Linked DNA regions of Homo sapiens: regions 1, 2, 3, 4, 5 and 7 are each linked to region 6. The links come from fine-mapping of genetic effects on gene expression. A gene starts in region 6. Each other region holds a variant in brackets. All regions are shown on one strand. Distances are between the middles of the regions. Region 1 overlaps LOC124904002 (a long non-coding RNA gene). Region 2 has its middle 8.7 kb from the start of KRTAP9-7. Region 3 overlaps KRTAP4-12 (keratin associated protein 4-12). Region 4 has its middle 6.5 kb from the start of KRT36. Region 5 has its middle 3.5 kb from the start of KRT40. Region 6 holds the start of KRT23 (keratin 23). Region 7 holds the start of KRTAP9-6 (keratin associated protein 9-6).

What was found.
Region 1: its variant is fine-mapped to the expression of KRT23 in whole blood (TOPMed, PIP 0.99).
Region 2: its variant is fine-mapped to the expression of KRT23 in whole blood (INTERVAL, PIP above 0.99).
Region 3: its variant is fine-mapped to the expression of KRT23 in whole blood (TOPMed, PIP above 0.99).
Region 4: its variant is fine-mapped to the expression of KRT23 in whole blood (TOPMed, PIP above 0.99).
Region 5: its variant is fine-mapped to the expression of KRT23 in whole blood (TOPMed, PIP above 0.99).
Region 7: its variant is fine-mapped to the expression of KRT23 in whole blood (INTERVAL, PIP above 0.99).

Annotation. Positions count from the first base shown.
Region 1 is chr17:41,110,645-41,114,713 of GRCh38, forward strand. LOC124904002 (a long non-coding RNA gene) reads left to right here. Exons shown (of 2, transcript XR_007065754.1): 2 at 1-2,026. Among named protein-coding and RNA genes, the nearest start is that of KRTAP4-11, 5.7 kb to the right of the region's middle. The variant G/A (reference allele first, on the strand shown) is at 1,888.
Region 2 is chr17:41,282,338-41,286,406 of GRCh38, forward strand. No RefSeq gene overlaps it. Among named protein-coding and RNA genes, the nearest start is that of KRTAP9-7, 8.7 kb to the left of the region's middle. The variant G/A (reference allele first, on the strand shown) is at 2,394.
Region 3 is chr17:41,119,783-41,123,851 of GRCh38, forward strand. It overlaps KRTAP4-12 (keratin associated protein 4-12), which reads right to left. Exons shown (of 1, transcript NM_031854.3): 1 at 3,309-4,069. The coding sequence ends at 3,735. Among named protein-coding and RNA genes, the nearest start is that of KRTAP4-12, 2.4 kb to the right of the region's middle. RefSeq lists an enhancer at 3,527-4,069. The variant A/T (reference allele first, on the strand shown) is at 2,284.
Region 4 is chr17:41,494,410-41,498,478 of GRCh38, forward strand. No RefSeq gene overlaps it. Among named protein-coding and RNA genes, the nearest start is that of KRT36, 6.5 kb to the left of the region's middle. The variant T/C (reference allele first, on the strand shown) is at 2,461.
Region 5 is chr17:40,985,760-40,989,828 of GRCh38, forward strand. It overlaps a transcript of KRT40 not described here. Among named protein-coding and RNA genes, the nearest start is that of KRT40, 3.5 kb to the left of the region's middle. The variant T/A (reference allele first, on the strand shown) is at 2,071.
Region 6 is chr17:40,935,319-40,939,387 of GRCh38, forward strand. It overlaps KRT23 (keratin 23), which reads right to left and starts at 2,328. Exons shown (of 9, transcript NM_015515.5): 1 at 2,028-2,328; 2 at 890-1,635. The coding sequence starts at 1,285. All of the region lies in intron 1 of LOC107985072 (a long non-coding RNA gene), which reads left to right.
Region 7 is chr17:41,262,111-41,266,179 of GRCh38, forward strand. It overlaps KRTAP9-6 (keratin associated protein 9-6), which reads left to right and starts at 3,268. Exons shown (of 1, transcript NM_001277331.1): 1 at 3,268-3,750. The coding sequence starts at 3,268. The coding sequence ends at 3,750. The variant CAG/C (reference allele first, on the strand shown) is at 2,365.

The sequences.
Region 1 (4,069 bases), 180 kb after region 6:
TTCTATCAGCATGCCTACTATGTCTATATATTTATGTGATGTGTACACAATTTCTCGCTACTGAAAATATATAAAAGAGTTCTAATTAATTGGCTTAAGATAAAAAGCACTTGAATCTAATACTTTATCAGGAAAAAAGAAAAGACTAGTTGAATGCTTTCTGAAGTTTATGTAACAAGTAAAATCTTTAATAAATAAGCTAGCTTTAAAATTATTGGTAAAGTAATATTAGACATGTCTTAAAAATTGCCAGCATGCATTTTTGTTTGCATTTATTAATCAAGCAATTTCATGCTTATCCCTGTCAAATACCATAAGGTGTCAAAATTTGCCATGGAGTTACAAAACTGTAATAGAATGATCTTTGCTTGTATAATCTTTAATAAATAAGACATTGATATTGGTTTAATAAAAATAGTCACATCTTGAATTTAGTGAGATTACTGTAACTTCTAATTTTGTGGTTTTGGTGGTCTAGTCCACAGGCAGTAAGATTTAGTTTGAGAATGAACTGTTATAATCTTTGTTTCAAAGGTAAACTATAAACTATGTTCCTCTCAACGTCTGTTCAGCCTGTGCCCAGGATTGAACAAGAACAGTTTGGAGGTTAGAAGCAAGATGGAGTCAATTAGGTCAGATCTTTTTCACTGTCTCAGTTATAATTTTGCAATGGCAGTTCCATAACTTTAAATGATGACTATTGCAGTTTTCATAAATAATCTAGGTAAACAATTCCTTTTTAAAAAGGTGAACAATTGTCATCTAATTCAATGCTTATTTAAAGATTATGTATAAGACAAGTTAAAAGGAACCAGGAAATCAGAGAGATGTAAAGAAAGGTATAAAAATAAAGAGGATAAAGAGGGTTCTTTTTGGTAAGGAAGCTTAAAGAGAAATAATTTCATATGAGAAAAGATCTTGTATGGTAAATTTAGACCTAAAATAAAATGATTGTTTAAGAAAGATGGATGTTCAAAACAAACCAGAAAGTCCAAGCATATCATGAACAGTCTGTAAAAGTCATAATAAGAGGATTAAAAAAAAAACCAACAAACTTTTATATGGTCAAGTTGTCTGTAATTAAAAGGAAATTATAATAGTCTTCCTGAAGATTGGGCTTCATGTAAAAAAAAAAAAGCAATGATAAACAAAATAGTTAGAGCGATGAAATTTTCTTAAGGGATTGATTTACTCTTATTAAATTATAAGAGATTTTAATTTTTTTAACCCAAAGTTCAACTGTTTACTCGCTGTTTTCTCTCCCCTTCAACTCGTTTGCAGCTCATATAAGTTATTTTCCTTAAATTCTATTTGTTATGGTCTGATGCTAACAATGTTTTCTAAAAGTCTAAAGAAAATGTTTTCTTCCAAAGTAATATTCTGTGCAGTGTAGAAGGTCTTTTCTTTTGCCTTTGGGTAATTGACCTAACAGATTTTATGGCTTATTGAAACAATGCTATGCTGTTATTATTAATTTTTGATTTGCTCAGGAAAAAGTATCTGAGATAATTTTTTAAAATTAAGGTTATTACATCCATGTATATTTCTGTAGGTGCTTTGAAAGTACCTGTGACATTAAGTTACAGGCCTTTGACTCCTGGGTCTAAAAAGGACACCAAGGTCTGCTAAATCTTAAGCACTGACAGCAATTAAAACCTCATCTTCAGGCCTGGTAGAAGATGCCAATCAAAATAAACTGCATTCCTGAGACATAAGGCCAGAAGTAAAAGCTATTCAACTCCTCAAGGCTCAGGAACTACCACAGAAGAGGTAGGCATGTGAGATTGTAAGGGCTGATTTTGAGAGACAAAATAAGTTCAGTTTCTCTGCAAGTTAATAATTGATGTCAAAGGCACACTGATGCAATACCAGCATACGGGCCCCTGC[G/A]TCAGATTAAAAAGGTTTTCTTGAAGTGTTAACCGACCCCTTAATAAAGGTTATAAAGGTTAAAAAAGGCTTATGGAAGCTGTATCTTATGGTCAAGATTAAAATTTTAAAGATTGATAATAAAATTTCAAAAAACAAATTTAATTGGCTTTATGCTGTTTTATTTGGGCTTAATGTTTGAAAAATTGACTTATTTTATGATGACCTATCAAGTATTTTAAACTTTTGATATTTGGCAAAGTTTCCAGAATCAAATTACAAGTTGTGTATTTTTCTGACCTAATTAATCCTCTAAGATATTAGTTTCCCTAAAGTCCAAAAATGAAATAAATGACTTATTTGGTATAAAAATTATACAGGAAGCATTGTCAAATATAAAATGGTGTTTGGTTTTCTTTGGGCTGTATTTGTATAAAAATGTTATTGGTATGTGCACCAAAATTATGGGAAACTCCTATAATTCTGATATGACATGGTGTACAATATCACTAATAATTATAATTGTTATATAAAATTATCGTGTGCCACAGTGGTAACAAATTTTCTTGTCAATTGTGTCTTTGATTATGGCTGACCTAAAACTTTTTGTCACCCATGGACAATTGTTTTGTTTTAGTCCTTTTTAGAAGATGGTTTTATAATCAGCTATAAAACTCTAACACGTGTTCTTGAAGGCAAGTTTCTAATAACTTTGGAGACTGTGACATCAGAATGGAGGAAAAGCTTTCAGAACTCATGGAGACCTGAAATGTTCATGAATAGCAAGCAGAACAGGAATTAACTGCATGAACTGAACTAATAGAAGAGCAACGTAATCTTTTTGACTTTTTGCTTAAAATGTTGCTGCTCCTTGTTTTCCTTTTTTTAGTCAAGGAAACTTTTATTTGAGCTGTTGTCAGCTTTTAACAAGTTAGTATACTCCTGTGAAAAATATTTGGAGCATATTTGTTTCTCTCTACCTGATTTTCCCCAGAATTGGAAACTATCTGTGAGTATTCTTAACTTATGGCAATACAGTTATTTGCATAAGTGCAATAATAATCTGTTTTCATGTGTAACAAGACACAATTGGAGAAATTGGTCATTTTACCAAGGCTTTGACTGGAATGGTGTGCTCTCCTTTAAGGAATCAAATTTGACTTATGGAGCCAATAAAAGCCCCTTGGGAGAACTGGCCTCATACCTTATCTACACAGTCCCTGTACAGGGTTCCTGACCTGTGGTAAGTAAAGCATGTCACTTTCTAACAGTTCCAGGAGCCCCAAGTTTATCTTGGAACCTCAAGAGCAGAGGAATTCATGCAACTCATAGGTATTTGATGGTACAAATCCATGGCTAGGCTAAGCTTTCCAAAAGTCTTATCCGAAATTCCTTCTATGGAACAAAGTTCTGATAGGGACAGGGGGCTGAGAAATTCTAGGCAGAAAAGGGTAGGTCTCTGACAAAACCCCACCTTCAAGCTGAAAAGCCTTAAACCACGGCCCAAAGTGAGAACTTATATCCCTGTTTTCCTGCTTGAAAGTTGCCTTTTTCTAAACCACTCATGGCTCCATCCTGTCCATCCTATGCCTGTGAAGATGCCAGACTCAGCTGGCAGAGGCAAGAAGCAGCTGGACATTGGGAACTACAGCTGGACGTCAGAGAGAAGCAGCTTGATTCAGAGGGACAGCTTGATGGTGTAATCTTGGAGAAGAATCCAGCTGGATACAGCCTAACTTTGAGGAAGATTACCTACCCACCCCATCCTTTTTCAGCTCCGCTTTCTGCTAAGAGCCACTTTCATCAGCAACAAAATCCCCCACATTTACCATCCTTTGATTGGTTCATGTGACCTCACTTTTCCTGGACACAAGACAAGAGCTTGGGAGCCAGGAGAGCAGATACAAAAGACTGTCACACTGGCCCTCTGCCCTTGCTGGTGGAGGGCAGCTGCCTCACACAAAAAGGCAGAGGCCTCACTGAGCTGTTGACACTTAAGCCATCCATGGAAGGCAGAGTTAAAAGAACACTGTAACATGCCCTCTGGGGCTATGGGGGTCGCAGGCACCCCCACCTAGATGCTGCTGTGGGGCCCACACAGAGTTTGCTCCTGCCGGTGGCCAAAAGCACTCACTTTGGCTCCTGCACTGATTCACCTGCATGCTTCCTCCCACAAGCAGGGGACTGCAGCAGGTCCCAGTGA
Region 2 (4,069 bases), 350 kb after region 6:
TAATGCTTTGATCCAACCAGTGCCTCAATGTTGTGAGGCAAAGTTGAAGCAGAGGAGATTCAACATCAGAGTATTAGAAAAAGAAAACATAAGGATTTGAGAAAGAAAATAAAGGAAACTGGTCACTCTTAAAAAGTATACTGGATATAATGACAATAGACGTTATTGTAGTCCCCCAAAGTGGGAGCTAGACTTTCCGAAGAGCTGAACACCAAAGAGGATACCAAGATATTTCTTGAAAAAAAAGAACAGATACTGGCTCCAGGGGAAAAATAATATTCTGTGGCCTGAGCTATCACATAGTAGTTAGGTCTTAGGAAATCTAAGAAGGTGGAGGGATTTTCCAAAGAGGCTTCCATGTTGTCTGACTTGCTAAGTGCTTGCTCTCCTGATGCATTCAAGGATGAGCTGAGGCACTACCATTTACTGAGTAACTACAGGTATTAGTCTAGGTTTTTCTAATTCATAATCCACCAATGTTTTATTTTCCTCATTTCACAGATGAAGAAACAGAGGCTAAGGGAGATGAAGGAACTTGTTCAAAGTTGTACAGTTAACAGTTGACCTGGCTTCAAACACTAAGCTGTCTACACTACACTCACTGTGTGTGCTATGCTCCCTGCCCCTACCAGTCTAGAGACATAACCGGGTCTATGGAGTCTTGAATATGACAGCAAATTACTTGGTACCCTCACACAGTCTCATTTCCTTATTCTACCAATAGTTGGGACTTCGGGAGAGTGAATAAGAATAAAGACTTACATCTGGATATTAAAACAATCCTTTATTTAAATAAGATTTATTGAGCACTTACTGTGTGTTAAGTACTGTGCCAGGTGCTGTGATTACAGAAGTGAACGAGACATTCAACATCCTCACCTTTATTGTGCTTCGGGAAGAATACAAACAAGAGACAAAATTTATACAGTAGAAGTGAGGAAGGTGAGCCTATATTATTAATGATATAGGAAGGGTGGTTCATGACGACTGTATCTAACAGAATTGTATCTTAGCAACGAATCAGAGAGGGAAGGAAATAAAAAACTTCCATTTTGAACCCATGAATCAATTTACCAAGTAGAACAACAGGGGTGATACTGAAAGAACTCAGGTACAAAAATTCCCCAAAAATGTAAATGCAGAAACAATAAAACATGGTTGGAATATATTAAGTACTTCCCCCAAAGCCTGCAGCTTGTAGGTAGCAGAACAGGCATGATGCAAATACTCATCTATGTGATTTCGATCCTCATGGCCCAGACTTTCCTGCCTTCTTCCACAGTGGAAAACCTGTGCATGAACAAAGAAGGGAAGATGAACCCATGAGCTCTCTTTGTGTGGACATACTGCAGTCTTCCTGGCCAAACACAGGAAATTGATGATACATTGCAAAGGCAGATCACAAAACCAGCACACATGGGAGGAGAAGGGATGAAGGAACATCCAACAATCTAGCTATTTTGTGGGGACCTCAGAATCACTAAAATTGAGCAGAAGGTTCTTAGGCAACCAGGTAAACCACCTTGATCTAGATTTTAACAATGAGAAGGACTTGGTAAGCAAAGGTTAGTGATGATAAACTTGCTGCAAAAGGACCATGTAAAAATTTGTGATAGCAAGGCAAGGAAATGCTTGTTTGGCTGGAACTGCATTCTACAGAGCAGGAAGATAATTGGCTATTTACAGGAACATGAATGTGATTTTCCAGCAAAGGGCACTGGAATAGAGGATGGAGCTAAGGGTAGGGAAGCGCTCAGAAAAGCCATTCTGATTGCTTAGTCACAGATGCTTCTAATGAGGAAAAAGTTCAGGGGGTCTAGAGTGAGTACAGAAATTCTCTAAAAGCTCTTTAAAAGATCTTCCTAGGAATGGAACAGACCACCCCGGGTGTATGAATTTCCATTTACTAGACACTTAAGCATTGGATCTGGCAACACATGGCAGGAAGTTTATTAGGATTCCTTCCATGCCTGAGATTCTTTGAGATCCTTAAACACTCTGTCTTGCCCCATCATTATTTGATTAATTAATTGCTAACAGGTTGTTATTCTCTGAACTCCGTAAGCATTCACATACATAATGCTTTAAAGAAAGCATACACACTGTCATGATAATTGGCATTCCCTTGGAGATAAAAAAAAAAAAAAAATAAGGACTATCTCCCCAATGGCATGCAAGGTAGAATTCACAACCCTTGATAAATGTACCTGGTTCTGGCCTTTAGCCTTGCAGACTCAGAGACCTGATTTTGCTTACATTCTAAGGGTTAAGCCACGTCTTAGAGCAGACACCTGTTAGCCAAGCCCAAAAAGCAAGGATGCCTATTTATTAAATTACAGGAGAATTAAGTAACAGGAACTTCTAAAACACCACATGAGTAAGGAATCAGACAG[G/A]AAGTTATATAAACTAAATGTTGAATGGCATTTGACATGTTCGTTTCACAATAGTTCTCACCAATGGAAATTGAAAATTCATAGTCCCTCTCCTGTGGGCAGTTGCCTGGAGGCACACTGCCAACATTCACCCCAGCACTTGTCTTAACCCTGATTTTCCATGGTTCAACAATACTCTAATTTAACTTTCACATTTTTACATCTTCAATTAGACTTGAATCAATTCCTCAGACTTTGAATGCATACATCTTTTTAAGGTGACGCTACATAATTTGGTTTTGATCGTTTTGAACATAGGTTCCAAGTCTTGGATGATATCTGACTGTACCAATGCATTCTCATTCACACCATTGCATGGTGAGCATCCATGATGAAATTTATATTTGGTTTAGTTCATGTCTACCATCATATCTGTTGACTATTTGTAATATTTCTATTGCATGTCAGGATAACTTGGGCTTTGTTTATCTTTCTTATCTCACTAAGTCTTTAAAAAAAGATTACTGTGTGATACAGAGTTGTCATCATAGTGATAATGTAGAATTATCATCAGAGTGTTGGGTTGACTCTTATGATTTTGTGTGTGTCTTTGTTCATCTAATTATAATCTAACATCACCAACCTGTTATGAGTGACACACCACATACTTCTTCCTTCCTCCCTGCTGTGAGTTATAGTGGTGATTGGACTATAATTAATTTATTCTTCTTAGAATTTGAATTACACATAAAAGACAATCCCTAGGTTAGGCCCTCTAGTGCAATGTAATATTGTTATGGAAAGAACAGGGATTAATTTCAGAAAAACCAGCCTGTGTTTCCTACATTCAAAATAGGGAAAACTCGGCTCTTTCATCACTGGACACCTTCTCCTTGGAACCTCTTCTGACAGATGGTTCAGATAACACAGCTTGGGATTTTTCTTGTGAATATGCAGGAAACAAGAATGAATGTTATATTCTAAGATCAAACGCTGGGATAAATTTAATTAAATTGTAGGTTTGGAGATAACTAATGCAGAAAATATAGGATTAAAAATCAGAAATAAAATTAAAATGATTCCCACTTAAATAAACAAATATAGACATTATTCTAGAATATAAATCAAGAAAGCCTAAATTGGATAGATTGTATAAACTCGCTAAGGAAAGCATGCAAGCCTTATCCATCCTTTATTATCACTGCGTTCCACAGTGGCTGTGGCCTGTCCCAGACCAGAAAACCTTCAGATCCTCTTTCTAAACAAAAGCATTCCTTATGCAAGATAAGGACAAGGTAAAAACCAAGCTCTTCAGCCCCAGTCAGATTCCTGCTTGGAACAAAGATTAAGATGGAAAGGGTCAAATTTCAATAATCTTCTGCCCTTTAAGGTTGATTCCTAGCAAAATCAACCCAGTTTTTTCCAAGCATTCCCCTTTAAGTGCCCAATAGTAATAAATATAGCAAAGCATAAGTATACTTAATATATAAAACAAACCACTCACTAAGACCAACATTAAGTCCACTATGAAAGAACTGTACCTACACAAATAGGTGATGATAAGAATATAAGGGATTTCATTTAAGATCTACTGGTAAAATTATGATTAAGACATAAGAAAGGAGGACTTCTTAATATTACTTATATATTCAAAGAATAATATTTGAACAGAATTGTGTAGAAGGACAGCTGGAAAG
Region 3 (4,069 bases), 180 kb after region 6:
AAACAAACAACTTGTCCAAGGTTAAAGAGAAAGTAAGCCTAATATGTCTTAGTGTAGCCAAGAAAGCCGTAAAGAATACAATTTGCTAAGCTTGCTGAAACTGCTTCATCTTCTTGGAATGTTTCATCTTTTTTTGTCCACTCTGCAAACTCCTACTCATGTGTCAAGACCCAGTTAAAATATTTCCTCCTCAATAATATCTTTCCTGCTAAGCTACCCCATTCATGTATCATGATTTCCTGCCTTGTGCTCATAATTTATACATTCTCCTGTATCATAGTCATTTACTTCTGTCTTTCCACCACGTGCAATGCAAATACCCTGAAGGCTTGCGCTATGGCATTTATTCTCGTTACCATGATACTCAGCACAGAGAACACTGGTGGTAAATGTTTGTTGAGTGAATGAAGGTTTTTTTGATGACATAGAGGCATGTAAGGTCCTTTAAAAAATGTATATATCTTTTGACTTCTGGATAAAAGGGAGGAAAACATCCCAAACAAAGAAATCATAATTTCATTTCAGGAAGACTAAACTCATTTGTGTGATAGGTAACATGTCACCCGATAAATAACATACGTGGAAACTGCGGAAGTCAAGATTCAATTTATAGAATGAGACTTGTTTATAGATAACCAAGAATACAGTGTTGAACGTGCATGCCTATATTCACACAGTAAAAAGACAGGAAGGAAGTAAACGCCAGATGGTAGCACTGGTTCTCCTTCACCTCCTGACTTCCTCGTTTTACTCTTGTTGATTGAAATAACTATTATTTCCTGTTTCGTATCAGTCAGCCAAAAATGTTTGCTGATAATCTGTTGTCTTAGCTTAAATTCTACCCAATGCAAACCTTGAGAAAAAGACCTGAGTGCACATAATTTATTTGGGGGATGATCCCAGGAAGCACAAGTGAGGAAACGGTGAAAGTAAGACAGGAAAGGTAGAAAATCCCAACAGTGTTTGTGTTAATGGTAAGGCCCCCACTGTGGGCAGCTGGGGACGAACCCCAGGGACAAGCCTGAGGCTGGAGGCACTTGGCCACCATGATTGCACACCTGTAAAATCCTGTAGAGTCAGCTGGGTATTAGTGTGAATCGCGAGATCAGATAAAATATGAACTTATACTAATCCATAGACTTTTTATACACTAGCAATAATTCTCTCTAAAATTTAATGGAGAAAAATCACACACTGGGGCCTGTCGTGGGGTGGGGGGAGGGAGGAGGGATAGCATTAGGAGAAATACCTAATGTAAATGACGAGTTAATGGGTGCAGCACACCAACATGGCACATGTATACATATGTAACAAACCTGCACGTTGTGCACATGTACCCTAGAACTTAAAGTATAATAAAAAAAAAAAGAAGCATGTACTCACAGTTCTCAAGAGTAAATAGAAAAATATGTAAATAAATCTGCCAAGCCTTTGTGAAGGAAAATGTTAACATTTCCGGAAGGACATAAAATAATGTTTGAATAAATGTCAGAACAAGAGATGTGCAACGAAAGCCAAGTTTTCAAATAAATACATACATGTTTTATGCATGCATTTAATGAGGATGTATCTCAATTTGCAACATTAGGTATTGAATGGGATTGGCAAAGATCATGATGGGAAACTTACTTTTGTTCACATTGTCACATTCTTTTGTATTGTCTAAATGTTTAAAGAGCATATATTTGTGTATAAATGATCTAAACATCCTTAGAAAATAATAAATGTGATTTATATAAAATTCATAATTTTTCTACATATTCTGTTAAATATATTTTCTGCTATTATGTTTACATTCTTATTTCTTTCAGGAACTAAAATATTAAAAGTACATTTCAGTCAGTCATTTGAGCTCTCAAATTAGCTATCATGAATTTCAAATTGTTTTGGGGGACAGGCTGGGTTCCCCAGGAAGCAGTCACTGAGATGGAGAGCAATATGCAGGAGGTTTATTGAAGCATGCTCTTGGGATTAACACTGGGGAGGGCAGGGGAGGGGAAAGGGAGGGGAGGGGAAAGGGAAAGGGAAGGGGAAGGGGAGGGAAAGGGAAGGGAAGGGAAGGGAAGGGAAGGGAAGGGAAGGGAAGGGAAGGGAAGGGAAGGGAAAGGAAGGGAAAGTGAGAGAAAGATCAAGTTTGACACTGGGATAAATCAAACTGCAGGGCAATCTCCGTGGAAGTCTCAGATGAACCTATAGGGAGTTCTGGAGATGAGATGACCCATTAGAGGCATCCCTAGTTGGGGAGAAATGTGGGTCTTTATAGTTTCATCCTAAAAAAAGGGC[A/T]TGACTTTGGACGAAAAGAAAAAAAATCAGTCTCCAGCATACCTGTGAGTTTTCACTAGGCCTGCTTCCTTCATTTCCATCACCTGCCTGGCCGTGAAGGTGGCCCTCTCTACATGGCAGCATGAACTCCCCATTGAAACTCTGCCAGTCAGAATGAAGGAGATCCACTGTGTTTGTGTTGAGGATTCATTACACATGACTCAGTAGAAAATACATGGACTTTGCTAAACCACCTAATAGCTGCTTTTACTGGAAAAAAAAAGAAATTGAAATACAGTGTTTTAAAAGATCACAGCTCTGTGCACAATAGTAAAGACATGGAATCAGTCTAGGTGCCCATCAACAGTGCATTGGATAAAGAACATGTGACATTTTCACACCATGGAATACTACACAGCCATAAAAAAGAATGAAATTTTGTCCTTTGCAGCAACATGGATGTGGCTGGAGGACATTATCTTAAGCAAATTTTTCCAGGAACAGAAAACCAAATATTGCATGTTGTCACTTACAAATGGGAGCTAAACATTGGATACACATGGACACAAAGATGAGAACAATTGGGGACTCCAAAAAGGGGGGAGAGAGGGAGAGAGGAAGGGCTAAAAATGACCCACTGCTCAGTACCTGGTGACAGAATCATTTGTAGCCCAAACCTCAGCATCACACAACATGTAACAAATACGAATATGTACTCTTTGATTCTAAAATAAAAGTTGAAATTATTTTTTAAAAGATGATGAGTTGTGATCAATCTTTCAAAACGTTTCCCCTGTTGTTATATTCATGGATATTTCATGACTTCAGCTTCACTCTTTTTGTCTAAAGAATACAAAATGACTAATTGATTTGCCTAAGCCTGAAAAGACTTTTCTAGAAAAAAACTAGGCAGTGATCGATGTCAGTTGACCTCTGTTAGAAGGTTGACTAATCTGTGCTGTGAGCCCTACAGGTGTAGTTAAATGTAATCACCCAGGACCTAAATATAAAACCCTTTTTAAAAAGAGAATAAGAATCATATTCAATTTTCAGTGCCAATAGAATAGAGGTTTATTTTGGTACATGGAAATAACAAGGTACAAAAATGTTTGCAAAAGACTTTAAGAGAGAGACTTCACTGGACTTCAAGGTTGGAGGCTTTAAGATCTGTGGCCCTACAAATGATGGAGGCAATCTTCAAATTCCTTAGGCATGATGAATAAATGTCCTGAAGTCAAAGAGGTGGGAGGATGTTGGAGGACAATTTGTCAATTTATTAGGAGATTGTCAATGAATTCCTTTGGAAGGAAGGGAGTTTGGACAAAAGGTAGAATGCAAATACAGAATTTCTAAGGATGAGGTTTGCTTATGGGACCCAGATCAATTCTCTTGAACAGTCCGCATGTTTGCAATGAGAGCCTTCATCTGTAGGAAAGGACGTAATAAGGAAGTGGTGTGTTCACAGCAGAGATTTAGCAGCAAGAGGAGGCACAGCACAAGGGGCGGGGGCAGGTGGAGATGACACAGGTTGGGCGATAGCAAGTGGTGTGGCAGGAGACTCGGCCACAGACTGGACGCAGGCAGCAGCAGGGGCGGCAGCAGCTGGATTCACAGCAAGAGGGGCAGCAGCTGCTGGAGATGCAGCAGCTGGGGCGGCAGCAGGTGGGCTGGCAGCACACAGACTGGCAGCACTGGGGTCTGCAGCAGCTGGACACACAGCAGCTGGGGCGGCAGCAAGTGGTCCTGCAGCAGGTGGTCTGACAGCAGCTGGGGCGGCAGCAGGTGGGCTGGCAGCACACAGACTGGC
Region 4 (4,069 bases), 560 kb after region 6:
TGTTTACCTGCAATTCTGATCTGAGTGTCCTGTGTCTGAAACCCTCAGTAAGGAAACATCACTGGTTGAGAGCCTTGGCCACACAAATGCAGCTCTTTCTTCCCTCCTTCCCTGATGGCCTGTCACCATGGCTGGCTGTTCTCAGGGTCAGACACAGAGGGCTTCCCTTGGAGAATCGTGCCTTCCTGTCCTCTCACACCCTGCTGTCAGTGGCTGTCATTCTTGCCCTCCCAAGTCCAAACAGTACTTGGAGATGCAGAAGCTGAATTATCCTGCCTCCCATCCTGGCCACCTCAGTGACATTCCATCCTGATGGCAGCTGCCTTCAACAGGGTGACTCAGACCTTCCTGGACAAGATTTAGCAAGTCTCTCTCTGCTCCATTTCCCACCCCCCAGCTTGTGCCCCAAATGTCCACCTGCCCCCTGCTATCACCCGGCCTCACCAGGTTCAAGACAATCTGAACATGACTCAGTGGTGAAGGAGGTCCCCCCCACTGCCTGGCTGCCCCTCCACAGTGTTGGTCCTGGTCCTGAGCAGTGACTCCTCCTGAGACTCTGGGGCCCTACAAGGAGCATAGGTCCAGCTTCCCAACCTGCTGTTCCTGGCCTGTTCCTGAGCCCCCATCAGGCCTTGACCTTCATCGGGCCTTCAAAGTCCCACTTGACCAGGCCCGGAGTTACTCTAGAAATCTCATCTCCCCCAAAATACAAAAGTATTTTCTCTCCCCCTGGGGTGTGGTTTTTGCACTTGCCCAGGACTTCAAGGTTCTGCTCCAAGCTGCTTTTGCCGTGGCAGATGCCCAGAGAGCCACCCTAACTCCAGCCTTAAGCCATACCTCTCTGGTCCTCTTGTGGCCAAGCTCGGCCTTCCACATCTCAGGGCCCACCACCTTCTCCCCTGGGGCCAGCGCTCCCTGCACAGCTGCACTGGCTGCCAGCTCCCATCTGGAAGAGTCCACAGTCTCCTGCTCAGACTCACCGAGTCCCTAACTCCCCCACCCCACTTTTATGGTTGGAGCATTTCAGAGCGTCCTTTCTCTCCTTGGTGTGCTTGAAGAAGCTGTGATTGTGGGAGATGCACAGCCAGGCCCACTGGGAGAAAAGAGCTGGTACCTCAGTGTCTAGCGTCCCCTTGATTCAAGTATCACTTAGCTGAACCATAAAGCGAATTTTCCAAACACCCTGTTTGATTGGACTTGTAGTCTGCATTTACAGGGGCCGGCATGCAATTGATTTGACTCTCTTCCTACGAACAACAGCGTGTCTGCAAACCAGACTGCGGGCTCCGGGCTGTAATTAACCATGCCTGACACTGTGGATTTTACTTTCAAACTGGTCTGAGATCCTTGGATGAAAGAAGCCACAGTCATTATGACTGTTCATAAAAAGGGATACCAGCTCTTGGCCAAGTCCCCCAAATACCCACCCCCAACAGGTGCCTGTGCAAGTCTCAGCAGCACCCGCCACCTGCTTATTTTCTTTCAAACTCTGCAGGAGGATGGAGGGTGTAAAGAGTGCCCAGCTCTTTTGAAGCCCCCAGAGGAGCTGCTCAAAGGGACACAACCCACATATTCTGCTCTGCTCCAGCCACCAACAGTCCCAGGGACACCATCCAAAAGAGGCCAGTTCCCTGGGCCGCCCCTCAGATGCCCTGACCCAGGCAGGGAGGAAGGAAGGGCCCCCACAGCTGGATAAGAAAAGCTGGAAGTGGCCAGGCGCAGTGGCTCACATCTGTAATCCCAGCACTCTGAGAGGCGGAGGCAGGTGGATCACCTGAGGTCAGGAGTTAGAGACCAACCTGGCCAACATGGTGAAACCCTGTCTCTACTAAAAATACAAAAATTAGCTGAGTGTGGTTGTGCATGTCTGTAATTCCAGCTACTTGGGAGGCTGAGGCAGAAGAATTGCTTGAACCCAGGAGGCAGAGGTTGCAGTGAGCAGAGATCATGCCCCTGCACTCCAGCCTGGGTGACAGAGCAAGACTCTTTCTCAAAAAAAAAAAGAAAAAAAATCTGGAAGAGTCCATCACACCCATCGCCCTGCACCTCCTGCTGTGACTTTGCTTCCTAATCTTCCCCAGAGCTTCCCTTGGCTGGGACAGTGAGAGTCCCCTGCCAGGAAGGCCCAGACACCCCATCTCATACTCAGGATCTTCTATGGATCCTCAAAGCTATCACCCAACACAGAGGGGGAGCAGGCGCCAAGGGGGTCTCAGGCCTGGAATGTGCCTGCAGCCACACCCTGCCTGTCAAGGGTCTTCTGTGGATCCTCAAAACTATCACCCAACACAGAGGGGAACAGGCGCCAAGGGGGTCTCAGGCCTGGAATGTGCCTGCAGCCACACCCTGCTTGTTAAGGGCCCAGCTGGGGACCGGACGGGGCCCTATGTTGAGACCAGGCCCGGCCAGGACTGGGTCTAGGGCCCAGCCACTCCACCCTGTATCCCAGCAGGTGGCCAT[T/C]GAGGCACTGATCTGCTTTCTGGGGTGAGCCTGCCCCCTGCAGGGCCTGGGCAGGACAGCCATCGCATTGAGGAGGGCAGCAGCCTGGCTCATTCCCCAGGGTGGAGCCAGGAAGAGAGGGAGGTGCCTATTGCTTGGGGTGAGGAGGAAGTGGCTGAAGCACCAGGAGTCACAGAACAGCGCCACGTCTCTCCACCTCTGTGTGCCACCCGCTGCCCTCCTCCCTCCAGAACCCGACCTGGCTCTGAGGTGCCAAGACACCCCAGGAACATCACAGGCTTGATTCCTTCATCCCCTAGGCTTTGGGGTCTGGGAGAGAGCCTCACTTCTCCCCCAGATTCCTGGAGCCGAATGCTTGACCCTTGGCAAAGGACCAGCCCCAGTCTTGGAAAGCACATTGGAACCACAGGTCCCAGCTCTCCCGCTGGGCAGGTCTTTGACCCCGTCCAGACCTCAGTCTTTCCATGTGTAAAATGGGCACAGCTGTGCCAATTCATGGGATTGCTGTAAAGATGAAATGAAAGAAAGGATGAGAGTAAAGGATGCGCTACTGTGTCCCCCTTTCCGTTATCTCTTTCATTCCGGCATCTCTTGTGCTGACATGGCCTCATTCACAATCATTGGCATGGACATTAGCCAGGTGCCAATGGAAAGGGGCTGTTTCCTCATAGCCACAGCACTGGGAATCAGCGGTGTGAGACTGGCATGGGCGTGGCACCTAGGTCAACCCTGGGAAGGGGAGCATTGACCCAGCAGGCCTGATAAATCTGCCCTCACTTGAATGGCCGCCCCACACCTGATAAAGAGTTGAGTCCCAGAGAGAATGAGGCGGATTCCCCACCCACTGCCTCTCCTACCCTTCTGACCAGAGAGCCGGGATGACCACCTGCTACTCCCAACTCAAGAAGGCTCCTGGGGTAGCTTTGGCAGAAACACCTGCTCTCGGCCTGCCCTCTGAGCTTCCCCGGGATTCCTGATGGGGCCACATAGGTCCTCAGATGGGGCCCAGCTTCTCAGTGTCCTTGCTGGGGTCTGGGTGAAAGGCTCCCAGGCCAGAGTCCCCACTGGGCCTAGAGTGCAGCTCATTTCACTGCTCCTGTGGGCAACTACCCTCACCCCCCACCAAGTTTTGCAAAACTAGCTCAGAGAATGAGGGGGCTGCCCCTAAACAGCCATGCCCGGGGTCTCAGGAAGAGGGGCTGCTCTGGGCCCCATAAGCCCTGGGATCTGGACCCCAGGGTGCCTTGGAGCAGCCAGGGTAGCTCAGCATTGAGACCCCAGGCCCCTCTCTCAGTCTAGGGTAGGGGCTCCTGTGCTCTCTGTACAATACTTACTTACCACTTTCATTTCCCATAGCTTGTATCTATTTATTCCCTCATTTCTCCATTCAACACATTTATTGAGCCCTTATAACGTTCTAGGTATGAGGATGAGACTGACGATGAAACCAGCCCTACCCAGAAGGAACGCATAGCTTAGAAAAGAGAACGAGAAAGATCATGACCAGAGGTATCTTGTTTACTGAGCACTTACTATGCACCAGTGACTGTTCTGAGCACTTGACTTTAATTAACCTATGAGGAAGGAAGACTTAGCAGATGAGGAAGTC
Region 5 (4,069 bases), 50 kb after region 6:
GCAACAAATATGAGTTCAAGGATTCAAAAACACTTCTGAAAAATTACAAATCTCTGAAAGAAAATTATCTTTTCACAGTAACCTAATGAGTCAAAAGAAAAATATCTGTGAAGAAAACCCATGTTTTGGTTGTCCATCACAGGCTCCAGTTAGCTAAAATGCAGTCATGTAAGTGCAGGTAAAATAAGAAATATTTCCTTCTGTCTGGAACTAATTTCTAATTGTAAATTATTTGTTACTGGTTATTGTCCTGCAGGTAGGACTATTTATTTTGGTCTTGATTAATTAGGTAGTGTTGTATAATGATCTATAGCTATAGTCTCCATCGTAGAATATAGAAATCACCCAGAATTCATTTCTGTGGAGTCCTCCTTAGGGAAAAGAAGTCAGGCTGGCAGGACCAGAGGAAAGCAAGTTAGTGGGTGCAGCGCACCAGTATGGCACATGTATACATATATAACTAACCTGCACAATGTGATAAATAAATAAAAAAAACCAAAAAACAAAAAACAAAGAAAGAAAGCAGGTAATGTATAAGACTCACCTTCTTCATGGTCCAGGACACATAGCCCTCCTGCACAATATTCCTGCACCCAGCTATCACCAGACCTTCAGCTGATAGAAAAATGTAACTTAGCTCACTGCAACCTTAGTGTTATCAGTACCACACAAACCCTCTTCAGCACACAGTACAAGCACCATCCTGTAAAATCTCCAGCACGCCTTTGTCTCCTTGCAGACAGCCCCTTCTCTGCTGTGCTGCCCATTGCTTCCTTGCAACGTATTTTCATACGTTCTCTAATATATCTGCCTTTCTTTACCTACAACTATCTTGATAAATTCTTCTTACCCCCATGCCACCAGCCCCAGATAGTTGCTAATCACCCGTGACAATTTCTATAGCATATCATCACCAGAAGAAAGGAACATTGGGAATAGAGAAAAAGAAATAGACATCATGAAAGGCCATGATAAAAAAAAAAACCGACAACAACACGGTAGTTTATTTTGCATAATACTATGCTCTTACCTTACAACATCCACCTAGGCTGCCAGAATCATTTTCCTAAAATACAAACCTGCTTTTTGTCGCCTTCCACTTATGGAATGCAAACTTTCTACCTTGGCAAATATGACCTTCCCTAACCTGGTGCCAATTTACCTTTCTGGGCTCACTTCCTGATGTTCTGTCTCACAAACCCTAAGCTCCAGCCATCCTTCAAGCTTCGTAGGTACTATTTTCTTGGTCAAATGCTCTTCTGCTATTCGTTTCCTGGATGAACTCACATGTCAAGACTCAGCTGAAACGTCGTTCAACTGCCTCATGTGGAGATGTGGCTCCTCCCAGAGCACTTTGCACGCATCTCTGCTATAGCAGTTGTCTTGTTGCTTTTAACATTTGTGCGACAGGTTATAAGAGTTTACATGAGGCCTTAAGAAATTTGGCTCAGGGCCAGAGCTAGTATCCACGTGCAGCAACTTGGTTGATTTTCACTGTTTTGGGCAACAACCTAAATAACTTTTAACAGTGCCTGGGAATGTTCAAGGGTCAGCTCGGGTTCAAGCTGCAGGGGAAACACACAGCTGGCTGGGCCACAGGGTGGTCAAGGTAATCTGTTTCCCAAGGCAAAGAAGGAAGTGGAGGGATGATCTGGGTGACCCTACAACATGATCAATCATATTGAATAACTTGGTCACTCTACATTATCCTTTATGTAAATTGTTTTATTCAGTTAGTTGATAGGATTAGCAAATGGATTTCCACCCCCATCTATGTTCTTGAGAAATATTTCCTGTAAATTTCTTTTCTTCTAATGATCTTGTTAGGTTTTGGTATCAAGTTACATACTGGGTTCACAATATGACTTAGCTCTGCGTCCCCACCCAAACTTCATCTCAAATTATAAACCCCAAATCCCCACGTGTTAGGGGAGGGACCTGGATGATTGGATCATGGGGGCAGTTTCCCGTATACTGTTCTTGTGATAGTGAGTTCGTTCTCAGGAAATCTAATGGTTTTGTAAGTGTGTGACAGTTCCTCCTTCCCACGCTCTCTCTCACCTGCCCCCA[T/A]GTAAGAAGTGCCTGCTTCCCCTTCCACCATTATTGTAAGTTTCCTGAGGCCTCCCCAGCCATGTGGAACTGGGACTCAATTACACCTCCTTCCTTTATAAATTATCCAGTCTCAGATATTTCTTTATAACAGTGTGAGAATGGAGTAATACTGTTCATAAATTAAATTGGGAAATGTTTCCTCTTTATTTCATGAAATTCTGTAAGATTAGTGTTATTTATTCCTTAAATGTTTGATGGAGTCCAGTGAGGCCACCTCTTCCAGGAGTCTCCCATGTGAAAAAGTTGTGTTTTGTTTTTAACTAGGAAAAAAAATGTCTGGGCGCGGTGGCTCAAGCCTGTAATCCCAGCACTTTGGGAGGCCCAGGCAGGCAGATCACTTAAGGGCAGGAGGTTGAGACCAGCCTGGCTAATATGCTGAAGGCTTGTCTCTACTAAAAATACAAAAATTAGTTGGGCATAGTGGCGAACACCTGTAGTCCTAGCTTTTCGGGAGGCTGAGGCATGAGAATTGCTGAAACCTGGAAGGCAGATGTTGCGGTGAGCCGAGATCACACCATTGCACTCCAGCTTGGGTGAGAGTGAGACTCCATTTCAAACACACACACACACACACACACACACACACACACACACACACACATGCACACACACACGCAAATATATGTATATTTGCTGACCTCTACATCAAATTGCTTACCTCTACTTATAGAAACCTCACAATGCTATTCAGTTGTTCTATTTCATTTTGTGTGAAAGTTGCATTTTTCAAGGAGTTTGTTCACTTCACCTAAGTTGCAAAAATACTGAAATAAAGTTGTTCATAATAATCCTTATCATGAATTTTAGTATCTGCAGTGTCTATAAATTCTCACTATTTAATTCCAGATATTGGTAATTTGTGTTTTATCTCATGCTTCCCCCATCAATCTGGCTTGATGTTCATCAGATTAATACTAATGTATTGTTTATTTCAAGGTTGCTGAAAGAGTAGATTTTTGATGTTCTCACCATAAAACAATGATCAGGTGCTTAGGTGATGGATATGTTACTTAGCTTGATTTATCTTTCCACAATGCATACATAAATCAAAACACCACATTGTACCCCACAAATATACATATACACAATTATTATTTGCCAACTAAAAAATAACTAAATAGAAGTACTTTATGAATCCTTTCAAAGAATCAAATTTTAGCTTCATTAATTTCCTCGTTTTCTATTCATTGATTTCTGATATTATGTTTATTATTTATTTCTTTCTCCTTACTTTGAATTTTAATTGTTCTTTTTCTATTTAGTTGAAATGAAAACTTAAGTGATTGATGAAGAGATAAATGAAGGTGATAAAGATGTAAATCTTATTTTCTAATATAATCATTTGCTGTATATTTTCTACTAATCCAATGCTGTATGTATCCCATAAATTTTTAAAATCTTTTGTTTTCATTATCATTCAGCTCATAATATTTCTTAAGCTGTATTGGTATTTATTATTTGATCCATAGGTTATTAGAACTGTGTTGTTTGATTTTCAAATATTTGGTGATTTTTCTAAGTATCTGATTGATTTCTCATTTAATTCCATTGTGGTCAGATAACATATTTTGTTAGATTTTGGAATTTATGGAGACAAATTTAATGGCCCAGAATATAGTCTATTTTGGTGAGAGTTCCTTATGCATTTGAAAAGAATGTATATTCTGCAATTGTAGGGGGTAACATTCTGTAAATGTAACTGAGTAAAATTGTTTGATACTATTATTCAAATCTTCTTTCTCCTTGGTAATTTTCTTATCTGTTTGTTCTCTCAGATCCTGACAGGGGATATTAAAATCACCAAATGTGATTTTGGATTCATCTATTTCTCTCTTGACTTCTGTGATTTTTTGCCTTATTTATTTTGAAGCTCTGTTATTGGGTCATATTTTTAAGGATTATAGGACCACCTGATGAATTTTCCCTTTTTCATTATGAAATATCACCTTAAAATTAT
Region 6 (4,069 bases):
GGGAGGTTAAATCATGGTCTTACAGGGAATTTTCTGGGACTGCTTTATATAAGAGGGGAGTTAGATAGCTTTAAAACATAACCTATGAGATGATTGGATTCCTTCTACTTCTAGCTAATGTTATGAGACATCCCAGAAGGTATTTGCTTAGCTTTTTTGAGGTTTGGTTAAAGAGTTCGGTTTTTTTTGAACAAGGTCTTTATAGCCATCTCAACTCTCAGATTCTAAAAATTATGCTCATTTTATTATTATTGGTTCTAGCAATATGCCATTGTCAGAACTGTGAGCAACTTTACTGCAAGCAACCCACAAACGGAAATATCTAGGGATGTCATGATGACCTATATGCTGGTGTGGTGACAACTTTTAGGCATAATCTTCAAAATAGTGTAACAGCCTTTTGTCGATGGATAACCACATTGTTCAAAAAAGTTTGAGGTGGAGCAGAACTGAGGTAATGAGAAAGTAAACACTCTCTTATGCCTGGTGCACTGAGCATGCAGCATGAACACCAGCCCTTATCATTTCTATGACATCGTTGGGTCATAAGTGACATTAAACAGCAGCTGGTTGCCTCACATTTTAAAGATGTTTTTGGTCTGTGAGAAATCAGTAGTCTCATTTTTGAAACAGTCTGTAGCACTTCTATCATTTTTGCTGCCTTCTTTTTCTACATTATCCATGGACAGTAGACTAATTAAACAAAACAGACGTTTCCCACTCCAAATTTAAGATATAATAAGAAAACATCCCCCAAAACCTTTGTGCACAATTACTTCAAGCGCTGATGCCATTTTCCTGGAAATTGTCTTCTGGACTCATTTTTCCTCCCGAGGGTCCCCTGGCAAAGCAGCCCCATCTGGATCTCCAGGGTCACCCAGCATCTTACCTGCTCCTGCAGGTGTGTGATGTTTTCCTCATACTGGGAATAATCTTTCTTACTGCCAGGATCTCTCTGCTGGTGCCATTTCAGGATGCGGCTTTCCAGCTTCATGTTGGCCTCCTCCAGGGCGCGAACCTTCTCCAGGTAGGAGGCCAGGCGGTCGTTGAGATTCTGCATGGTGGCCTTCCCATTTCCGCCTAGTAGGGGGCTGCTTCTTCCAGAACCCCAAGACCCTCCAGGGGGTGGGCAGCTCCGCGTGGTGAAGGACAGGGAGATGCGGGCTCCCCCCGCACCGCCATGGACGGTGGGAGCCCTGGGGAAGCTCCTGGGCCGGCCCCAGCCACCTCCGGCGCCATGGAAGGAGGCCGAGGGGGTCTGGCTGAAGCTGTGTCCGGAGTTCATGGTCCCATCTGTGTTTGGGACGGGGCTGAGCTCTGCTCCACTCCCTGGCACCGCAGAACTGAGCCGCCCCAGACTGCCCTGGATGGTTTTATGGCCTTTGCTGTGGGAGTTCCCTTCTCTGACAATTGTACCAACAAGATTGTATCATTGTGCAACTTGTGTTTCCTCTTGGTCAATCCCAAAGTGCCCCTGGGCCTTCGCACACTGTTGTTGTTTAGAGCCACATCAATATGACAGTTTGCTTCCTCCCTTCCCCTGGTAACCCGGAGGTGTGGCCCACGACATCAGGCGGGTATTGGGCTCAGGTATCTTTCTAATCTTGCCGTGAAGTTTTTCCATTGTTCATTTACCTGGAATGGGTTAGGTTAAAGTCCACCCAAAAGAAAGCATATTCGATGTAGTATAGATTTCCTTAAAAAAAACCAAAAACCAAAACCAAAACAAAACAACAACAACAGCAACAAAAAACCAGACATTAAACAACAGAGATACACACACCTTTTTCCACCCCCAATAAGCCCCACCTCTAAAGGGAGGGTGAGCGAGCCTGGAGAAGGGAAAGCCAGCTCAGAACAGGATCTCAGGTCCCAGAATAAAGCTTGCTGTGCTGAGGCAGCCGAGAAGGTGGTGAATATCTGATGCCTTTGTGGCAGTCACTGTTTGAAGGAAAGTACTTTCAAAGGACTCGCTCTTAAGAACAAACCCTCAATTATAGATGTAATTAATTAATGAATGACCGAACCTTCCACTTCCAGGGTGCCTTTCATCCCAGCACACCTCAAAACCAAACAACCCTGGCCTGCGCTCAGGATTTCCCTTGGCCCTGGGGGAGGAATGTAGCCGTTGTTAGCAGCCCCGGACCCCGGCTGAGCCTGCCACGGCTGGGCTCTGTGTGTCTGTGACCTGCAGAGGGACGATGGAAAACAGGAAACCTGCCATGGGCTGTCAAATGTGGTTGATGAATCTTATATTTCATCTGCCAAGGTAAAGGTTAGGAATGAATAAAGAAGCAGTCTGGGGGCGGGAGCCACGTGCTAGTTACTGGCAGTTGGATTTAAAGGGGACTTACAAATAAAATATCAGCGCAGGAAGGGCTTCTGGCCTTTCTGGTTCCAAGCCACTAATTGGACAGATGAGGAAAGCTGAGGCCTATGGTGGTGGGGAGGTTAGTGGCAGAGCCAGGGCTAGATTCTTTCTCCACATAGCACTGTTATCTTGGGTTGAATCTTGACAGGTCCTGTACCACACTTCTCTTTCATAATAATAGGACTTGCCAATTGGTGTAGCTCTTTTATATTCTTTATTGAATCCTCACAACTCTTTATGTATCCAGGCAAGGGTTGTTGTCTTCATTTTGCAGACAAAGAATCAGGGTCTCATAGGGATGAATGATCCAGAGCTGATTCGCATGTACAGTGTAATTGAGCACATGAATTCATAGGTGACACTGCCCGAGTCTGTGCTGTCCTCCCTGCCTGGAAAGTCACTCACCCCTACCTCTTCTATAGTTCAAGGGCTACCTCCTTCAACAATCATTTTCTGAATTCTCCTGCATGAGTTGGGTGACCCTCTAGGAGGAAACTGCCTCTTCTGGATGCCGAGGTCCTCCAGAGGGGCAGACACCTTGGCATCCCACCTCATGGTGGAAGCTGGGAGCCCCTAGCCAGGCGCAGCCACCTCCTGTGCCTGGGATGAAGTCCACTCCGTTCTTTCACTCCATTATACTGCATTTGCCACACCCTTCTGAGACCGCAGGCTTCTTGAAAGCAGAGTTTATGTCTTCCATTTTTGAGCACCAAAGTCTGGTTTCTTGGTGGTATTTTGCAAATGTATGTTGACTCAATCATAAACTTTTTAGAGTCAGGATTTTAACACAGGTCTCCTGATGCCATCAACTTCTGCTCCTTTTAGGACTGTGAGTTATAGAACTAGAAAGTAGGAAAACGCCTCTCCTGGGTATAGATTAACCATCCATGAAGGCCAATCTTTTCCAATTACAAATAAAGCCACCCAAAAGCACACCAGCTCTGCTCCTCCCAGTCTTACAACAAAACCTTATCAGGGAAGAGTCTCTGAATATTTTTTATTTCACTGTGCACGAGCTGGAAAAATGAGCCTCCAAGCCTCAGGGAAGCTTGGAGAGTGCTTAGAAAGAGTGCCGACAGTCACTTACATCTCAGATATGAGAAAAAGACAAAAGAGACAAGTGATAAAAATAGAGCAAATGAGGGAACTAGAGAGACTTGTTTGGCGAGTGGTGGCAACCAGTGTTCTGTGGATGTGGACGGTTCCTGGTCATCAAAGTTATGGTCAGCTCTGGTTCCTGTTCGCCTGGACCCAGACTTACCAAGGAAGAAAACATTTACCTTTAGCATGTGCAAGGGCCGGGCTGCACTGCCTTTTTCTAAATTCTCTCACCAGAATCTACAATGAAATTAATGCTTCTCTAATTATTTCAGGCATGTCTGAGTGGCAGTGACTTATCAACCCCATAGATTTGGCCACTGTCTCATTTTATGTCCATGTGTGGGAGTTTTGATTTATAGGACTTATCCTTGAGCAAAAGATTTCTTGTGTCATAGCAGGACCAGGGCCAGGAAAAACTGGTGGTGAGATCTGAGAGCACTGGGGAGAAATAGTCTCTTCTAGTACTGTTATATGATGGTTTCCCATAACTTCTTTTTTTTTTTTTCTCAAGATGGAGTTTTGCTCTGTCACCCAGGCTGGAGTGCAATGGCGCAATCTTGACTCACTGCAACCTCCGCCTCCTGGGTTCAAGCGATT
Region 7 (4,069 bases), 330 kb after region 6:
TTGATCAACCAGAACACACAGACACAGGGAGGGGAACATCACACACCAGGGCCTGTTGGGGGGGTCGGGGGCAAGGGGAGGGAGAGCATTAGGACAAATACCTAATGCATGCAGGGCTTAAGACCTAGAGGACAGGTTGATAGGTGCAGCAAACAATCATGGCACATGTATACCTACTCAACAAACCTGCACATTCTGCACATGTGTCCTGGAACTTAAAGTAAAAGAAAAAAAGTTGATCTAGTTAATTATTATAAATATATTCTTATCATCAACATTAAAATTAGTTTAGGAATTTCTGGAGAGAAAAGAAATAATATGTTTTCAGTTGCCTATCATTTGATGGATATTGTGTAAATCTTTTATGTACATTATCATTAATTATTGAAAAAACTTTCAAAGTAGGCATTAGTGTTCTAATTGTAGAGATGAGGAAATTGAGGCTGAGAGATGTAATGTCATAGTTTGGTTTTTCCCAGAAGATACTCTGAGAAAAAGATTCCAATGAATACAGTGTATTAGGAAGGGCAGAACAGGCCAGAAGGGATTGTGGCAGTGATACAGAAAAGGGTATACTATTAAGCCAGTATCACAGAGATCAACTGAAGCTTAAGCTAAAGGGAAATTTTTCAGAAATGATGAAAAACACACAACTTTGAATTCTCAAACTTCAGCAGTGAAGAAGCTAGAGTCTGTATAAATCCACTCTTTAGAATTTTCAGTTGAATATTTTTCTCCCTGTAGTGTGCACAGGTGACATGACTTTCTGTAGTTGCAATACAAGAGCCCTAAGGCACAGAGATGCAGATTCAGGCAGATGGAAATTGGTATGAGCACCCTAAGTTCCATGATATACAGGTATGGTAATGAAGACCTGTCTACAGTAACATTTGCTCCATTCAAGTCCAATCTTTCCTTCTTAAATGTAATGGACAGCCATGAACTCTAGGAGAAAAAGGAGGAGGAGGAAGAGGAGGAACAGAAGGTGAGAGAGGAGGAAAAAACTAGGAAAGATATGGGAAGAAGACAATATACACAGACAGGAAGAAAGGAACGGAGGAAGAAAGAGAGCAAGAGACAGAAGGAAAGAGAGTGAAAAGGAAGGAAGGAATGAAGGAAGGAAGGAAGGAAGGAAGGGGAAGGAAGGAAGGAAAAGGAAAGAAAGAAAGAAAGGGGAGGGGAGGGGTGGGGAGGGGAGGGGAAAGGAAGGGAAGGGAAGGAAGGGAAGGGAAGGGAAGGGAGGGAAGGGAAAAGAAACTACTGCTGTAATAGGGTGCTTCTGAGATTCATAATCTCCATCAGTTTCCGCCAGTTCTATACTCCCTTCATCACTGGCCAGCACTCCTGTTAGTTTAGATAATTGCCTGATGAAGTAGCTCAGAACTTCCTGCCTGATGGGTCTTACCCTCTAGTTACTTACTACACCATTGTCCAACTGTGGTTGCTTTTGTTACTCATTTGTGTTTATCAATGGGCATGGATACACTACGAGATATTCCAAGGTTATGGGTCGAATTGTGTCCCCAAGAACTCATATTCAAATAGGGTCACTTAAATGCAAGATGGTAAGATAAGGTCATATTGGAATAAATTGTGCTTCTGATTCAATGTGACTGGTGTCTGTATAAACAGGGGAAATTCAAACAGGATGCATATAGAGGGAAGATGATGTAAGAGACACATGGAGAAGATAGACATCTACAGGTCAAGGAGAGAGACCTGAAACAGATATTTCCCTCACAGCCCTCAGATGAAAACAACATTGCCAACACCTTTATTTTAGCCTTCAGAACTGTGAGAAAATAAACTTCAGCCACTTGATTTGCCATAGTTTTTAATGGCAGTGTAATGCTTTAATATATATAGTAAATTTCTTGAGTTTCAGATATATTCTCCCTACGCTCTATGGCTTCACGAAAATTATCCCTCATGGAATATTAACTCCTTTATCTACCTGCTGGTCTGCTAACATGAAGGATCCAAAATGAAATGACCAGGTTATAATTGCTGCTTTTGATTATGCCAAAAACACAGTGAAGCAAATTCTATAATTTTTATTTACATAAAAGTCAAAGAAAAAAACAAAACTGACCTACAGGATTAAAACTTGATAGAGTGACTAGCTACCTTTGGAGATAAGTAAAAAGATATAATTTGGAGGGAATGGAATTAATTTCTATTTTGTAAACTGGTAATGGGGACTTAGATGTATTTATAATGTAATATTATATCAAGTTGGAATTCATAATTTGCACTCTTCTGAAATGAATGGTATAATTTAAAAAGTTTTAAACAATGGTAAACCTCAAAGAGGAATCAGATATCATCTCAACTCACCTAATTCCCTCACTGAAAACAGAGAGA[CAG/C]AGAGAGAGAGAGAGAGAGAGACAGAGACAGAGACAGAGACAGAGACAGAGACAGAGAAATGGCAATGATTGTGCCAGTAACCTGGATTAGGGCTAGAGCCACAGCTCATATTGCTTTGCCTGGACCTCAAGCAGTAATGTCACAGTAATTCCCAGTCCCACATTCTCATGCTGGTAAGCCCCTCAGTCCCAGACAAATCAGGGTGAATGGTCACCGCAGCACGTAGATTGCTTGATGCTTTGTGAATTCCAGTGAACCCCTCCTCTTTCTACGTGTTTGCTTTGGCTCTGCTCTGCCACATAGCACACATTGTGCTGAACACCCTCTTCCCAAGAGGCTTTTATAGAACTGGAAGAGACAGGTAAAGTAGGTTGTACATAGAGAGATGCCTATCAGTCTTGAATCAGACTTTGGTGGGTGAACAGTCTTGGTCCCAAGCATGGATTCAATTCACCACTGTGAATATATCAACATCATGCTTCTCCCCACAGACACTTCCCAGTCTACATACAGCCAAAGGATGAGACTGGGCAGAGAGAACTTCCTGAGCCTCCCCAGTCACCAGGAACTATCACATGACGAGATGCTGGTCAGAGCAGGAACGAAGCTGATGATGAGACTGCCTTCCTTTTATCTGAAACAAAGTTTCTACGAGTAATTTACAATTAAGAAACAGATTAAACCCTTACTTTCCAAAGATTCATAACATTTAGGAAATGACTTCCTCTTTGACAATGCCAAACTGACTATGGAAAACAACTGTAAACAGCAAGAAAGAAAAATCCTGCTGATTGGTGGAAACTTTGGAGGCCACATGTATAAAAGGTCCAGATTGCAAGGGGTCATCAAATCCTGGGAAACTCACCTCTGAACAGAAGCCCACCCTCCACCCCTGACAACATGACCCACTGTTGCTCCCCTGGCTGTCAGCCTACCTGCTGCAGGACCACTTGCTGCAGGACTACCTGCTGGCAGCCCACCATTGTGACCACCTGCAGCAGCACACCCTGCTGCCAGCCCTCCTGCTGTGTGTCCAGCTGCTGCCAGCCTTACTGCCACCCAACTTGCTGTCAAAACACCTGCTGCAGGACCACCTGCTGCCAGCCCACCTGTGTGACCAGCTGCTGCCAGCCTTCCTGCTGCAGCACACCCTGCTACCAGCCCATCTGCTGTGGGTCCAGCTGCTGTGGCCAAACCAGCTGTGGGTCCAGCTGTGGCCAGAGCAGCTCCTGTGCACCTGTGTACTGCAGAAGAACCTGCTACCACCCCACGACTGTCTGCCTGCCTGGTTGCCTCAACCAGAGCTGTGGATCCAGCTGCTGCCAGCCCTGCTACTGCCCAGCCTGCTGTGTGTCCAGCTGCTGCCAGCATTCTTGTTGCTGAGCAGCACCACAGAGGACCATCATCCTCACACAACAACCTTCTGCTCAACTGACCTTTTTTTTCTTTTGAGACGGAGCCTCACTGTCACCCAGGCTGGAGTGCAGTAGCACGCTCTCGGCTCGCTGCAACCTCCATCTTCTGGGTTCAAGTGATTCTCCTGCCTCAGCCTCCTGAGTAGCTGGGATTACATGCCTGTGCCACCACGCCTGGCTAATTTTTTGTATTTTTAGTATTTTTAGTAGTTTTCACCATGTTGATCAGACTTGTCTGGAACTCCTGCCCTCAGGTGATCCACCTGCCTCAGCCTCCCAAAGTGCTG